Linked DNA regions of Homo sapiens: region 2 is linked to region 1. Evidence: fine-mapped expression QTL. Tissue or cell type: whole blood. Region 1 holds a variant in brackets; the other region holds the start of a gene. All regions are shown on one strand. Distances are from middle to middle.

The links. PIP is the estimated chance that this variant, and not a neighbour inherited with it, causes the effect.
Region 2: it holds the start of ETFA, and the variant in region 1 is fine-mapped to the expression of ETFA in whole blood (INTERVAL, PIP 0.94).

What each region holds. Positions count from the first base shown.
Region 1 is chr15:76,177,467-76,185,650 of GRCh38, forward strand. All of the region lies in intron 8 of TMEM266 (transmembrane protein 266), which reads left to right. LOC101929439 (a long non-coding RNA gene) reads right to left here and starts at 4,020. Exons shown (of 3, transcript NR_120360.1): 1 at 3,486-4,020; 2 at 1,080-1,318. RefSeq lists enhancers at 4,111-4,160, 4,371-4,420. The variant C/G (reference allele first, on the strand shown) is at 5,035.
Region 2 is chr15:76,306,471-76,314,654 of GRCh38, forward strand. It overlaps ETFA (electron transfer flavoprotein subunit alpha), which reads right to left and starts at 4,999. Exons shown (of 12, transcript NM_000126.4): 1 at 4,880-4,999. The coding sequence starts at 4,918. RefSeq lists enhancers at 4,251-4,751, 4,752-5,252, 5,462-5,511, 5,572-5,621 and a cis regulatory region at 7,183-7,604.

The DNA.
Region 1 (8,184 bases):
ACAGGAACACGCACACAGTGTCTTCAGAATCATCCCCTCGGAATGTCTGTCAGGAAACCAATCTTTTTATCTGCTTTGGGAACACTATGACCTTTTGTTTCGCACAGAATGCCTATGCGTGACAAGAGGGGTCATCAGGGGACATGGCCCTCAGGGGCACGTTGTCCAAGGTGTCCCGAGAGCAGGGCAGGCTATGGAATCCTAGACTAGGAAGAGAAGCATTCCCTTCCTGAGGAGCTGGCATCAGCTTCATTCATTCTCTTGCCATATCGCGTGGTTAGCCAGCACCGTCCAGAGCTGCTCTGTGCTGGGCTTGTGCCGGGCATGTGGATGCCGCCTAGGACAGGGTGTGACCCTCGTCCTCACGGGGCTCTGGGTGACTCAGGGGGTTTGGCAGCCCATAAATAGGCAGTGGAAATCTGGTGCAATGCCTGTATCACATGGGCACGTCCCGGGCTCTGCAGGCCAGGATGGGGAAGGCTTTCCAGAGGAGCTGATGTGGAGCAGAGCCCTGGGGAGAAGGCTGCCAGGCAGAGGGAACAGTGTGGGGTGTGCGAGTGGGTGCAGTGCCCCCGGGGTTCGGGGCCATTTAGAGGGTGAGCAGAGGGAGGCAGTAGGATTGGGGACAGGCTTGGGAAGGGGCTCTGTGGCTGACCAGAGAGTTTGGGCTTTATCCTGCTGGGACAGAGGAAGCCTGGAGGATTAAAAGCAGGACTGGGGGATCTGCTCAGATGTGAGTTGTTGATGGAGCCTTCTGGCTGCCGTTGGAGGCTGGATGGAGAGGGCAGGGTGGAGACAGGAAGACTGGGGACAGAGGCTGGAGAAGAAGGTGAGAGAAGCTGGGCTTTAGGCAGAGGGGGCTGCAGGGAAGTGGGGAAAGTAAAGTGCAGGGTGTCATCCAGAAAGCGACTGGAAGCCGATCAGGCAGTTCTCATTCTGCTGTTGAACAGGAAAACAAATGCTCTACTTCACTGCAGTTGGCAACGTGAAAGACACGGACACAGGGCTGCATCCGCCCCTCATAAATTCGCAGCCTCCCAGCCCAGCAGGGAACGCGCTGACCCTGCCGCACACCTCACCTCAGCCACACATGCGCCACGTGGCCAGGAGAAAATCCTAACGGCAACCCCACCTCCCAGGGTTTCCACCATGACCTCTGTCCGGAGCCCCCCGGGGACCCCAGGTTCCTGCCGTCCTGGTTCAAGTCACCTCCACATGTGGCCTCCTTCCCGGGGGTCTCAGCCGGAGGGAGACTCCCTTGCATTCTGCACAGGAAAGAGCCAATAAATAAAGACAGATTCCCTCTAGGTAGCGACATCTGGAAAAGAGATGAACAGAAACGAACCATTTTAATTTAAAAAACACCTGAAGCCTGTCATCTTAGTTAAGACAGCAGAAAGGGCCAGACAGGCTGGACTCCCAGTGGGGCCACCGGGGAGGGTGGGGGCTGCCTGGCCAGAGGGACCAGGAGGGCAGCTCTCCTGGAGTCTGTGGTGCCCACTCCACAGAGCGAAGCAGACAGATGCCTCACTTGCAGCTGTATTTTCAGACCTGGTTTGAGACTTGACTGGGTAACAGATACCCTGGAGGAAATGAGACTGTGGGCCCTGGAATGTCAGAGATGGCTAGACCCTTGGAGACAGCAGCCCATGGAATGGTTGAGAATAGACTTGGTTCTAAATAGACTTTGAGCTGGCTTCGAACCCAGGTGTGTCTCTCTTTAGAACACTTACTGGCCTTGTGGCTTTGGGCATTAATGGGACATCTATGGGCCTTGGTTTTCCTAATCTGAAAAATGGGTGTAGTAATAGAATCCTCGAAGGATGGTGATGAGATCGTAGCCTAAAGCCTGACACATGATGGGTAGCAACTAATGGGTGTGGACCCCGAAGTCCACCAGCCCCACCACACCTGCCCCACACACCCATTTTACAAATAAGAAAACTGAGCAGTGGCAGCTCGCCTTGGGGGCACACAGCTAGTCCAGGGGGGCATAGAACCAGGTGTCCTAACTGTGAACACTGTTCTTTTCCAGCCCATCACGTTGAGCCTCCTTTTTCCTACTCATGGCACTTAGCACTCAGCAAAAACATTGATCAGATTATGCATGGGGTATTTTATACTGCAGGCACAGACCTGGCTCCCCTCAGCTGTCTCAATGGCAGCCCCCAACCCCGTTCCAGGACAGTCTAGTATTCCTTGTGACAAACTCTTGCTGTCTCCTTGCTGGAATTCTCAGAGTATAATGAAGACATTTCCAAACTGAATTCACATATGCTGCCTGAAAAATTGACATTTACCAATGAAATGTGTTAGGGTCCCAGTTTAAATACAACACCTGGCCTGGCGCGATGGCTCACACCTGTAATCCCAGTGCTCTGGAAGGCTGAGGCAGGAGGACTGCTTGAGGCCAGAAGTTTGAGGCTGCAGTGAGCTGTAATGACACCACTGCACTCCAGCCTGGGCCACAGAGCAAGACTGTCTCTAAAACAAAACAAAACAAAACAAAACAAAACGCTTTTCACTCCCTTGCTCTCTTGCTGGGGTGTGTTTGTACAACTATTTCAACTATTTGCCACAACTTCACCCAGCTCTTTTTAAAAAAATAAACTTTATTTTTTAGAACAGTTTTATATTGACCAAAAAATAGTGAAGCAGGTGCAGAGTTCCCTGTATCCCTTGTGCCTGGCTGCCCATCATTAACATCATACACTAGTATCATTTGTTACAATGAACAAACCCACATTGATACGGTACTCAGGTTTTCTTAGTATTTAATCTGTTATGTCCTCTGTTTGCTCCACGTCGCATTCAGTAGGCTTAGGCTCCTCCTGGCTGTGGCAATTTCTCAGACTTTGTTTCTGATGACCTGAAGGGTTTTGGGGAGCACTGGTCGGGTGTTTTTGTTTTACAGGATGCCCCTCTGTTGGGATTCGTCTGATGTTTTTCCCAGGGTAAGCCTGGGGTTGTGGGTTTTGGGAGGAAGACTGCAGAAGGAAAGTGCCATTCTTATTGTCTCACATCAAGAGGACACACTGGCCACGTGACTTCTCACTGTGATGCGGCCTGGATCACCCGGCTGGGGCAGCGTGGGTCAGGTGTCTCCACTGCACAGTTACTCTCTGTTTCTTCATCTTAAGCTTTTTTTTTTTTTTTTTTTTTTTTGGAACAGAGTCTCACTCTGTCACCCAGGCTGGAGTGTAGTGGCGCCATCTTGGCTCACTGCAACCTCCACCTCCTGGGTTCAAGAGATTCTCCTGCCTCAGCTTCCCGGGTAGCTGGGATTACAGGCACCTGCCACCATGCCCAGCTAATTTTTGTATTTTTAGTAGAGACGGGGTTTCACCATGTTGACCAGGCTGGTCTCAAACTCCTGACCTCAGGTGATCCACCCGCCTCACCCTCCCAAAGTGCTGTGATTACAGGCATGAGCCACCGCACCCAGCCCATCTTAACTTTTTAAGAAAGATTACATTGCTTCTTACCGTGACCCTGTGGAGACTCTCAGGTGAGCCTGTTGGCCAGTTTCTTGCATGAATATCTGATTCATTTCACCTTCTGTGCTACATGGCAGTTCATTTCTTGTCACAGGCCCACATGCAAGGTGCTCCAGAATCACCTTATATAACAGATGAAAGGTCCCTGGGGAGGGCAGCTGGCCCAATCCAGGATTTGGCAGATGGGGCATCTGAGGCTCAGAGAAAGGGAGAGGTGGGCCCAACGTGGCACAGCAGTTATGAGGCCAGGACGAAAACAGGTCTCTTGTTGCTCATTCCAGTGCCTTCCCTCCTGGATCACACTGGCCCTCTGGCTTTGACAGGGAAACAGGCTTCACTGCTTCCCTCATTCCTATGATCTCTTCTGGTTGTGGACACACCTCATGCTTAACAGATTCCTACTTGGGGAGGGGTGCCTAGAGGATCCCGGGAGGGGAGGAGGTCTCTCTGCTGGTCAGTCATACCATTCCAAAGCCCTGGCCATGCCTTCTGCAGTCCCTTCCAGACTCCCCGCTGCTGTGATAGAAGCACATGGCTTCTGACCCCTGAATTCAGCAATTCCTCAATTCCTTAGGTGGAAGTTCTTTTCCATTCTTTTTGTTTGTTTGTTTGTTTTTGGTGAGGGGTGGATCTTGGCCAGAATTTCATGACGAGTTAGGCTCGCTGGTACACAGATGGAGTCCAAAGTCACGATGCTAGAGGCTGCCCTTCAGAGAGACGGTGTGGATGCCTTGTCTCTCTCTCTGTCTTGGCTGCTTCAGAAACCAAAGCCATTTTAGATGCAGCAGTTAAATCAATGCAACGATATACTCTTCTGACTCATCTCACGAAACCACCTCTGAGGTTTTATGTACCTCCATGCGTGGGATCTCGCTCTAGTTCCGAAACACATTCTGAAGTCTCCGTTACACCCGCTCTTTCATGTTTAAGCCTGGTAACAGCTTTTGGTACAAAATAGTATGATCTGACCTGGCCCACTGTGGAAGTTAGTTTCTCTTCTCTGACGTTCTGCTTCCTCAGCACCATTCACCCTGAGATCATTGGCAAAATACTGAGGGATATGAGGCTCAATCCGGGGTGACTCAAGGTCCAGCCTCCAAGGAGACCAGTGGGACCTGTGAGCCCCTTAGGACATCCTTAGACCTTGGGAAAGGTGAGTCCCTTGTCGGGGAGCTTGGAGGAGTGGAAAGAATCCTCTTATTCGGGGAGCCAGCAAGCCAGATTCAAACCTCAGCCCCACCAGTGACCAGTCATCTTCCCTTTAACCCCTGAGCCTCAGCTTCTCATTGGGGAAATTGGAGGTAACAAGGCCTACATCGTGTGGATGCCATATGCATCAAATTAAATCTGGCCTGCTGGAGGCTTTCAGTAAGGGTTAAAAAAAAGAGAGAGGTCGGGTGCGGTGGCTCACACCTGTAATCCTAGCACTTTGGGAGGCCGAGGCGGGCAGATCACGAGGTCAGGAGGTCGAGACCATCCTGGCTAACACGGTGAAACCCCGTCTCTACTAAAAAAAAATATATATAAAAAATTAGCC[C/G]GGTGTGGTGGCGGGTGCCTGTGGTCCCAGCTACTCAGGAGGCTGAGGCAGGAGAATGGCATGAACCTGGGAGGCAGAGCTTAAAGTGAGCCGAGATCATGCCACTGCACTCCAGCCTGGGTGACAGAGCGAGACTCAGTCACAAAAAAACAAAACAAAACAAAACAAAAAAAACTACTAAATGTATCTATATGATGGTTGCTCATTCACAAATGCACTGTCATGTTTTAGCTCATTTTTCCTTTGCTGGTGAAAGTTGGCAGGCTGGGTACTATTAATCCCTTCACATGGAAAGACTGAGGCTCAGAGAGGCTATTCTTTGGCCAGATCCTGTAGTTTTTCATGGAGGGACTAGGAAAGAAACCCAGGGCTTCAGTGTCCATTTCCCTGCGCCAGAAAGAGGCATCTGCCTGAGTCACTGATAGTTAGGGTGAGTAACACCAGTTGTTGCATCCAGCAAATCCAGAAATCTGAGTCCTGACACAGGAGGAGTACATTTGTCACTCTCATCATACTCCAATGCAGGTTGCAATGGGGCAGGGTGGAGGGACCCTCTGTTCCACACAAGTCACTCAGGCCTCCAGGCTGCTTCCATTTTGTGGCTTTTTTTTTTTTTTTTTTTTTTTTTTTTTTGAGATGGAGTCTCGCTCTGTGGCCCAGGCTGGAGTGCAGTGACATGATCTCGGCTCACTGCAACCTCTGCCTCCTGGGTTCAAGCGATTCTCCTGCCTCAACCTCCCGAGTAGCTGGGATTACAGGCATGTGTCACCACCCCTGGCTAATTTTTGTATTTTTAGTAGAGATGGGGTTTCACCATGTTGGCCAGGCTGGTCTCGAACTCCTGACCTCAAGTGATCCACCCACCTCGGCCTCCCAAAGTGCAGGGATTACAGGTGGGAGCCACCAAGCCCGGCCGATCCTTCTTCCTCCAAGTCCTCGGAGTCTTCTCCAGTCAGTGGATAGGAAAGTGAGGCTGGGGAATTGGGCACAGCAGGTTTTTATTGGCCAGGACTGAAAATGGTGATATTGCTCTGCCCCCGTTTTATTGGCAAGAGTCAGTTGCACAGTACCAACTAGGGGCACCAGATGCTGTCAGAAGTGGTCTTTGTGCCCAAGAAGAAAACAGTCGCCTGCACAGTCACCCAACCCATAAAACAAGGCCAATGGGCTCACAACATTCCCTACCCTTTCCCCGGTTCCACCACAGCAGGCGGCACAGCCACACTTATCAAAGTCCTTCCTGGGGGAATGCCATGCCTCCCTGGCCTGTTTTCCTGAAGAAACAAGATGATAATCTTGACCCTGCAAGCTGTAGGCATTTCTGATGGAGGAAGATGTGAGGAGAGGAAGCTGTCACGCCCCCCCTCCATCCCCTTCGCTGTCTTTCACGTGGAGGAACCGGAGCAGACGTGGGAGGTGGTGGGTGGTCTGATTGGGAGCCAGGGCCCATCTCCCCATCCAGGCCTCTCGCTGGACCCCATTGTCCCCTGGTTTTCTGGACCCCTGAGAGAATGCCAACGGCTCTGCGTAGGTCACTCGCCTTTGAGGCTGGGCTAGCAGCTCAGAAAAGGGGCCAAAGGGCAGGAATAGCAGGAATAAAGCCGTGGTTCCATGCTGGCTCCAGGGACGGGGCTTGAGGCTGGCTCATTCCAGAGAGCTCCTTCTTTTCCTACAGAGGCCACAAGTTCCCAGCTCAGCACAATAGCCTTTGTTACCTGGATTATTCAGGATCTCCACTGTGGGAAGTGAAATTTTTTTTAAGATGGGAAGTGATTTGTAAAACAGCCGATAGCTTTAATGACAAGCCTATTTAGCTGATAAAATCAGCCATCAGAGGAATAACTTATGTTATCCTTTTGCCATAATTTAAATTTATGGCCAACTACCAGTCATCTTCACAGTGGATGGAAAGGGGCCAAGGTCGATCTCAGCTTTACTCTGCTCCTAAATCATTAGTTTGCAACTGTCTCCTGATTTTTATTGTTACCAACAACGGTGAAACTAATGGAAATAAACATTGGATGCTATCCCAACAGCAGATGGGTTTGAAGGCAGGGCAGCCTGTGCAGACAGCACTAATAGGATGGAGCAGAATTACTGCTATTGCATTAGATACCATCGAGCTTCTGGCCAAAGTGTGCATTGATCAGGACAAGGCCCGTGTCAATTGGACTCCACAACCGGACCATTAAAGGCGGAGAAGCGCTGGGTGTGCCCGTCCTGCCGCCCCGGTGGGTCTGACCCCTCCTGGGCTTGCATTAAAAGCCCGGCCCCGATGGAAGGGGCCTGACTCACTCCAGTAATGCATACTGCGGGCTTCCCTGTGGATCCCAGATGATCTGGGCAGGTTATCTGATTAGAAATACTTAGCTAATGATGTGCACTAAATGGGGCTGTGACTGCACTTTAATTCTTCCCAAGCCTAGGGATGGTCTTTTTTTCCCACCGGGCCCATTTGCCAATGGAAGATTTGCTTCATCGGAGCCACTGTGCACCTTCTTTTCCTAAGGCACAGGCCCGTGTGAGCCCTGGGGAGCCCCGTCCTGTTGTGTTTCTTCCTGTTTTCAGCAGTTTGACTGCAAGGTGCTTCTGTGTGGATTTCTGTGGGGTTTTTTGGTATTTATTCTGCTTAGGAGTTTCTTAAATTTGTGGATTGATGTTTTTTATTAGATTTGGGAAGTTCTTGGCCATGGTTTCTTTATTCATTGCACCTGTCTCATTCGTCTCCTCTTGGAGCTCCAGTTGTACCTGAGGCCATTTGATTATGTCTCACGTTTCTCTTAGATCCTACTCTGCTCCACTATTCATTCTCTCTCTCTCTCCCTGTCTCCTTTTTTAATGGCTGTAAGTTTTGATGTTTTTCTATAGACCTGTCTTCAACAACCCTACTACGTCCAATCTCCTGTTAAACCCATCCAACCAACTACTCAATTTCAGATACTGTATATCAAGATTCTAAAAGTTTGATTTGATTCTTTTTATAGAGTCTAACTCTCTGCTGAAACACTACGCTCATTTTGTCTGTCTTTCTCCCCTATTTTTGTTCACATATTAATTGTAGTTATTTTGAAGTCCTTGTTTGTTCACTCAAATATTTACCCAGGTCAGCTTCTATTAACTGTTTTATGGCTTGATAACCACATGTTTTTC
Region 2 (8,184 bases), 130 kb after region 1:
GGTCAGGCTAATCTCAAACTCCTGACCTCGTGATCCACCCACCTCAGCCTCCCAAAGTGCTGGGATTACAGACATGAGCCACTGCACCCAGCCGGTTTTTTTGCTTCTTAATTAAAAAAAGAAAAACAGCAAGAATAAGCTATAAAATCTTTCTGAGTCATACCCAAAAGGATAATATATAAAGTCACCTATCCCTATTTTAACATACATTTTGTAATTTTTAAAATGTATATTTCTGTACTTTAAATACTTCCTTTAATCCTTTTAGTAATAAAATATAGCAGCTTTTAATCATGACCAGAAATGTTATATGACATTGACTGTAATACTAAAAACACAGTCAATTTACTTCACTTTAAGAAAGGACAAGACTCTTAGTAGACACATTGGCAGGCATCATAATTTTACTGAATTCACCTTATGCAATAAATTTTCTTTTAGAATCACACCAAAATTGGCTCTCTTTCTTCTTTCAATAGAAATTAAAATTTGCATGCAAATTACAGAGTTCAATCTTATTCATCAATACTAGACAGAAAAGTGTCATGTTCCTTCACACCAGTTTCATAGCTTCTCAGTCCTGATAGATATTCCTTCCCACCTGACAATAAACACAGTAAAAAGAGTACTCAAATGACCTTGAAATTGTTGTTTCACTCACCACATAAATATTTTTCTGCATCTTCTTATTCTTCAATAAATCAATTTCAAGAGCAAATTAATAAATAACAATAATTAGGATTAATATCCCTGCAAGAATATTAACTAACTGCAAATGCCTACCTATTTGCCTCTTGGTGTGTTCTCTAGCTCTTTATTATAGATATAAAAACTATCTTTGTTAACAGATGACTTTAAAGACCATTGCCACACACATAAGGATGAAAGACTTTACTCAATGGCACAAATCAGTCAGAACTAAAAATGGAACTTAGATACCAAATGCAAGTCATTGAACTTATATCCTAATAGTTTAACAAAGTGGTTTAAAAGAATACATAAAATTTACCATCTTAACCTTTTTTTTTTTTTTTGAAACAGCGTCTCACTCTGTTGCCCAGGCCGGAGGGCAGTGGTGCTACCTGGGCTCAATGCAGCCTCAAATGCCCAGGTTCAAGCAAGTCTCGTGCCTCAGCCTCCCAAGTAGCTGGGACTACAGGTGTGAACCATGGCGCCTGGCTAATTTTTTTTTTGGTAGAGATGGGGTTTCGCCATGTTGCGCAGGCTGGTCTCGAACTCCTGAGCTCAGGTGATCCATCTGCCTCAGCCTCCCAAAGTGCTGGGATTACAGGTGTCAGCCACCATGGTTGGCCCCATCTTAACCATTTTTAAGTGTTAAGTGTTAACTATATGCACATCGTTAACAGTTTATGGTAATCTTTTAACTGTAATTCCTAACTTTATTTTTTTAAATATGGTTTTGGAAATGTATCCTCTTCCTAAATGCATTAATGGTTAGCTACAGAACATTTTTTTTTTAATTTCAAGAGTGGGGACTTGAGATAAGCTATTTTGACTTTGTGATATCACAAACATATATATGTAAACAAACAGGAGTCAGATTGAATGGGCCCCACTTTACAAACATGAGACAACTTCAGCATAAGGTAGAAATGTATTATCCTAAATAAGGATCCATGTATCCATAAATCCATAAATATGCAAGAAGATAATGTTCTTCCTTATAGTAGAATAACTAAAAAATGTACGAAGGTATCATGGAAATAGAAAATCACCATTTTGCATCATAGTAATCATTTCTCAGGCAAAAATCATCAACAGATGCTAAGACTGGGTAAAAGTCTGATGAGAAATAGGACAGTCACATAGTCTCAATGAATCGCCTCACAAATTAGTTAAAAATTACAAAAGGAGGAGTATTAACTTGACAGTGGAGAAACCTGGCAAACAACACTTTGGCTAAGTAACTAAAGTCAGCATTACCACTAATGGGATAAACCAACATTAAGTACCTGCTAATATGATGCACGGGGAACACAATACCACTTTTGTGATATTCCCACCAAGAATACATGACCTGAATCTAATCATGAGGAAACACCAGACAAACCCAAATTGAGTGACAGTCTGGAAAATAGAAGGCCTGTACTCTTCAAATACACCAATGTCATCAAACCCAAAGGAAGGCTGAGGAACCTTTCTAACAGAGTAAAGAGACATGAAAACCACTTGCAGGACATCTAGAGTATCTTAGACCAGAATAAGGAAAATTGCTATAAACTGTACTAATGGGACAACTGGCAAAATTGAACATCCATAGATTAGAAAACAGTATTTTATGGTGAAACTTCCAGATATTGCCAATTACAGTGTAGTTAGAAAGTGAACCTCTTTGTTCTTTTAAAATATCACTCAATTATTTAGGAGTAAAGGGCACATTTGCAACATACTTTCAAATGGTTCAGAAAGATAGTATTATGTATATATGTGGAAAGATAAAGCAAATGTGTCAAACTGCTAACATGCTGGGAAAACCAGGGGAAGGGTTTTGAGATTTCTTTGTACTATTCTTGCAACTTTTCTATAAGTGCAACTATTTCAAAATTTAAAAAGTTAAATACAGGTATATGTCCCTATTAATATATGGGTCCACTTTAGAAGTGTTGCCACCATTTCTTTTATGCTAGAAATCCAAATCTCTCCAACATTCTTAATGACTTTAAAACAGCTATTCTAGGCTGGGCGCGGTGGCTCACGCCTGTAATCCCAGCACTTTGGGAGGCCAAGGCGGGCGGATCATGAGGTCAGGAGATCGAGACCATACCGGCTAACACAGTGAAACCCCCGTCTCTACTAAAAATACAAAAAAATTAGCGGGGCGTGGTGGCGGGTACCTGTAGTCCCAGCTACTCAGGAGGCTGAGGCAGGAGAATGGCGTGAACCCGGGAGGCGGAGCTTGCAGTGAGCTGAGATCGCGCCACTGCACTCCAGCCTGGGCGACAGAGCGAGACTCCGTCTCAAAACAAACAAACAAACAAACAAAAAAAACAGCTATTCTACTTAGCTTGACTTCAAATTTTAAAAATAAGTCAAGGTCAAAGTCTTTGGCAAACCACAATGAATATCTGGAAGTAATGTCTATACACATTAGCCAACGATGTGGATAGTAAAAATTACTTAATCATTCCATTTTTTTCTGTTAGCTCTACAAAATTACTGAGTCCTAAATTCCATCCCCCACCACAATTATAATTTCACTTAGGCCAGACTTGTAATCTGTCCACAAAACTGTTTTCCAACTGCTGCATAGAGCAGCATTCTTCTGGCTCAGGTTCCTGGAATTTCCCCAAATTCATGATTTTCACTTGTTTATGTCTAGATCCCCAACCGGGAGAAAACATGTCCTGAGGGGAAGACAGGACACTAACCTGAAAGACATGGGTTTGAACTCTTTAGGGGAGGGGAGGGTCAGAACTTTTTATTAAACAAGGAATACGCACAAGAAAAAAGATGTCTAAGGCCAGGTGCGGTAGCTCAGGCCTGTAATTCCAGGACTTTGGGAGGCCGAGGCAGGTGGATCACTTGAGGACAAGAGTTCGAGACCAGCCTGGGTAACATGGGGAAACCCCGTCTCTACAAAAAAAAAAAAAAAAAAAAAAAAAAAATTAGCCAGGCGTGATGATGCGCACCTGTGATCCCAGCTTCTCGGGAAGCTGAGGTGGGAGAATCGCTTGAACCTGGGAGGCGACGGTTGCAGTGAGCCCATATCGTGCCACTGCACTCCACTCCAGCATGGGAAACAGAGCCAGACCTTGTCTCTTAAACAAACAAACAAACAAACAAACAAAAGTCTAATGTCTACAGACATCTAGAAAGAGCTCCAGCTATGCCTCAGAGAGAAAAATCCCAGGAGTGGATGGGAAAATATCCATGCCCAGAAAAAAAAAAAAAAAAAAAAAAAGGAGAAAAGGTACAAACCATCAGGTAAGTTTCTGACCCAAGTTTACCAATCTTGTTTCTCATTTCACCTAAATGTAAACTAGGAAAACTACACAATCCACAATATAAATTATTGTTACTTGACTTGTGACTGGTCAGTCTCCAAATACTCCTTTCCCACAGCATGAGAAGGAAAATATGTTTCCTATCAGTCCTTCTCACAACAGAAGAGAGAAATGTGGTTTGTCACTAATGAAACACTGAAAATGTACCACTGTCACCAGTTAACCTAATCTACAATCTGCTGGTTAAAAGCAGGTCAGCCTGAAGCATATAAAAAGACGTCTGCCTTTCAAAACTGGCTAAAGCTGTCAAATCGGATCGCAGGTTTTACAAATACAATCACCTAAATTCAGCCCTGCTCCATAAACCAGAAAGCAGAACCAGCTTCCATAACTGGCCACGCAGCCTCCCACCCCACCCCACCCCCGCCCTTGACAGTGAGTGGGTCGGAGTAGCCACGATGCGCCCAAAGTGTTTAATTCTTCCAGAAATGCCGGCCTCCGGGAGGAATCTAGGTTTGAAACTTTCCCCAACAGGGCATTCCCCGGTGACATTTTGCTCCCTCGGGTGTGGAGCAAGTGTGGAGGACCTGGCGGCCCGAAAGTGCCCAGAGTGACCGACAAAGGTGGGAAACGGCAGGGCAGAGAGTGGGCCAGAAGAAGGGGCAGCAGACGCGCAAATTCACATCATTCGGGGTCACCCTGACCCCAAACCTCTGACTTCTGCCCCGAACTGGCGTTCCGCAGGGAGTCCAGGGTAGGCCCCAGAACTTTGGACCCAAGTCCCAGGCGGGGACCGGCCTGCGGGCGCGAGGGCTGGTCGAATCTGAGGGGGCCAGTGATCTTTGCAAGACCCCATAGGGACGGCGGGTTGACGGGGGGCCGTCCCTGGGTTCGCCTTCCCAGTCCGGACTCACCGCCCGCCGGAGCTGCCCCGGAGCCGCCGCTCGGAACATGGTCTCCGCTTCCGCCGCAACCTCGGCCTTACAGCAGCCCCGTGCCCGGCCAACTGGCGCCGCCTCAGCCAGTCACCTAATGCTCGCGAGACGCGCGAACGAGATAAGACGCCCTAGGCCGGGAGCACGAGCCCGCGGTTTCCGCCTGCCCATTGGGCGGCTGCGCAGCCAATAGACGGCGGGAAGTTAGGGGCTAGACTGGGAAGTGGGGCAAAGGTGAGGCTATTCCCCGGGGACCTTCGAGTAAGCCCGGGCCGCGGAGCGGCAGAGACAAAGCTGGCCACCCGCTGATGACCGAGCTCAGACTGTACTGTCTCACAGCCCCGCAATGGTCAGCACTGCTAGAGTGAACTTCAAAACTGAGCTGACCTCGGGGTAAGGTACGAGTGGAGCCTTGCCAATTCCAATTAGATACCTTTCCTATATGCCCCTATTTCCCCCTGTATTTCCCCATGGTAGCAATTGTCACATGGGTTGTAATAACCTAAGTACTTGTCTGTGTCACCCATCTGACTGAAGATCTGTAAGGGCAGAAAGTATGCCCTTTTTTTTTTTTTTTTTTTTGAGAGAGAGAGAGTCTCCCTCTGTCACCCTGGCTGGAGTGCAGTGGCGCGAGCTCAGCTCACTGAAAGCTCCGCCTCCCGGGTTCACTCCATTCTTCTGCCTCAGCCTCCCGAGTAGCTGGGACTACAGGCGCCCGCCACCACGCCCAGCTAATTTTTTTGTATTTTTAGTAGAGACGGGGTTTCACAGTGTTAGGCAGGATGGTCTCGATCTCCTGACCTCGTGATCCGCCCGCCTCGGACTCCCAAAGTGCTGGGATTACAGGCGTGAGCCACCGCGCCCGGCCAGTATGCCCTACTTTTAAATTTTGTGTCTACCTGCAACACCTAGCACAATGCCTGGTCCATACTAGGCATTCAATCAGTATGTGTTGAATGAATAAGCAAATGAATAAATGACTGCTAATGAGTCTGGACTTTAACACGAAATTTTTAAGAGGGAAGTGGTATGTTCAGAAATTGTCTCAATTCCCAATTCAGCAACAACCTACCTTTCCAATGTTATCTAGTCTATCAACAAATCCCGTTGACTCTACCTTCAAAAGATAACCAGAATCCAGCAATATCCTCCAACACCCCTTTGCTCCTCTGCTGGTATCACCTTCACTCAGGACCCTGTCCTCTCTCGCCTGGATCATTGCAAAGCCTCCTAACTGGTCTTTCTGTTTCTGCCCATGTTTCCAGAAGCCTCTTCTCCAAACTGATGGACTGATCATGACCTCTGCTCAAAGCCCTATGGTGGCTCCCTCTCCTCCCACTGCCCTCTTCTCTCACTGTTCCCCAGATACATAGGCCTTCTTGAGCACACAAGCCTGCTCCTCTCAGAGTTTTGCACTCTGGCTCTTCCCTCTGCCTGAAATGGCCTTCTCTTGTTACCCGCGTGGCGTACTTCCTCACTTCATTCAGGTCTCTGCTCAAAAAACACATTTGCAGAAAGGCCGGCCTTAGCCTCTCCACCTAAAATAGCACCCATGCCACTCCCAGACGCCCTATCACCTTGTTTGATTTTTTTTCTTGGCATTTATCACTGCCTAACAGGATGCACATGTTTGTTTATTGCTGATCTCACTGCATTGGAGTGTAAATTCCCTGAAGCAAGAGCTTTGTCTGAACTAACAAGCACTCTAAGGGCCTTGCGCTTTTGCTCTTCCCTCTGTCTGAAATTCCCTTCCCCATCTGACAGCCCTCTTTAAAACCCAGATCAAGTGACAATTCTTTTGTTCTGTTTAAGACAAGGTCTCACTCTGTTTCCCAGGCTGGAGTGCGGTGGTGCCATCACAGCTCACTGCAGTCTCGAACTCCTGGGATCAAGCAATCTTCCTGCCTCAGCCTCCCAAGTAGCTGGGACTACAGTCATGTGCCACCATGCCCAGCTATTTTTTTTTGTAGGGGCAGGGTTACCCAGGGCTGGTCTCGAACTCCTGGCCTCAAGTGATCTTCCCACCTTGGCCTCTCAAAGTACTGGGATTACAGACATGAGCCACCACGCCTGGCCCAAGTGACATTTCTTTTGTAAGCTCTTTCTCAATTCTGCAGGATGAATTAATCCTTTCCTCTTCTTCACTCTTGTAGCTCTATGAACAAGGAGGTGAGGACCCATCTTAAACTTAAGTTGCACCCACTTCGAACACGTCTGAACTCATGTTGCCGACAGAGCTGTGGACCCCTGTCCCCCAGTCAATCTGCCTGTGGGAGGGGCAATTTAGTATTCCATGTCTCACTGCATTTACCTCCTAACCAGTCCCACACTGGACTAGAATCTGAGACCTATGGGAGTGGAAGGAAGAGGGAAGGGTACTTTTAGTAAAAACAGAAAAGGATATTTTACTAAAAACCATATAAAAAACTGGGATACAAACTAACCTCCTTCCCTACCTCCCCACCCATGACAAAGCGAAATACAAGGGGAGAGCGGCTGCCCCGCCCTGCCCCCACTGGGCAGATTCAACAGCTCCCAGGCTTGGGCAAATCAGCAGCAGCTGTTCACCCCAGAGTCTCGTTGCCCCTGGGGGTTCCTGGTGGAGCAGTTCAGAGCAGAGGGAGAGGCTAAAAATGGGCAAAGTCTGTGACACCTGACCAGACCTGTTCTGATCACACATGAAACGCCCCCTGAGGCTTTGGGATGTATCAGGGTTCTACAATCACAACCAGGTTATGTACCACAGAAATGTGTGTGCTAAGACATTTCTATTAGAAGATTTTCCCTAGAGGCATATGACTTTCCCACTCCATTAGGAGCCGCTTTGGTGGCAGGACCTATGGTTTCCTTTTATTTACTTATTTTTATTTTATTTATTTTGGAGACGGAGTCTCACTCTGTCACCCAGGCTGGAGTGCAGTGGCGCGATCTCGGCTCACTGCAACCTCCACCTCCCCTCAGTTTCAATGGATTCTCTTGCCTTAGGCTCCCAAGTAGCTGGAATTACAGGTGCCCACCACCATGCCCAGCTAATTTTTGTATTTTTAGTAGAGATGGGGTTTCACCATGTTGGTCAGGCTGGTCTCAAAGCCCTGACCTCAGGTGATCTGCCTGCCGTGGCCTCCCAAAGTGCTGGGATTACAGGCGTGAGCCACCGTGTCCAGCCTATTTATTTGCTTCTTATTTTTAGATGTTCAGCAAACATTTGTAGAAATATGTGTCCAATGGGCTAGGTGCAATGGCTCACACCTGTAATCCTAGCAATTTGGGAGGCCGAGGCGGGC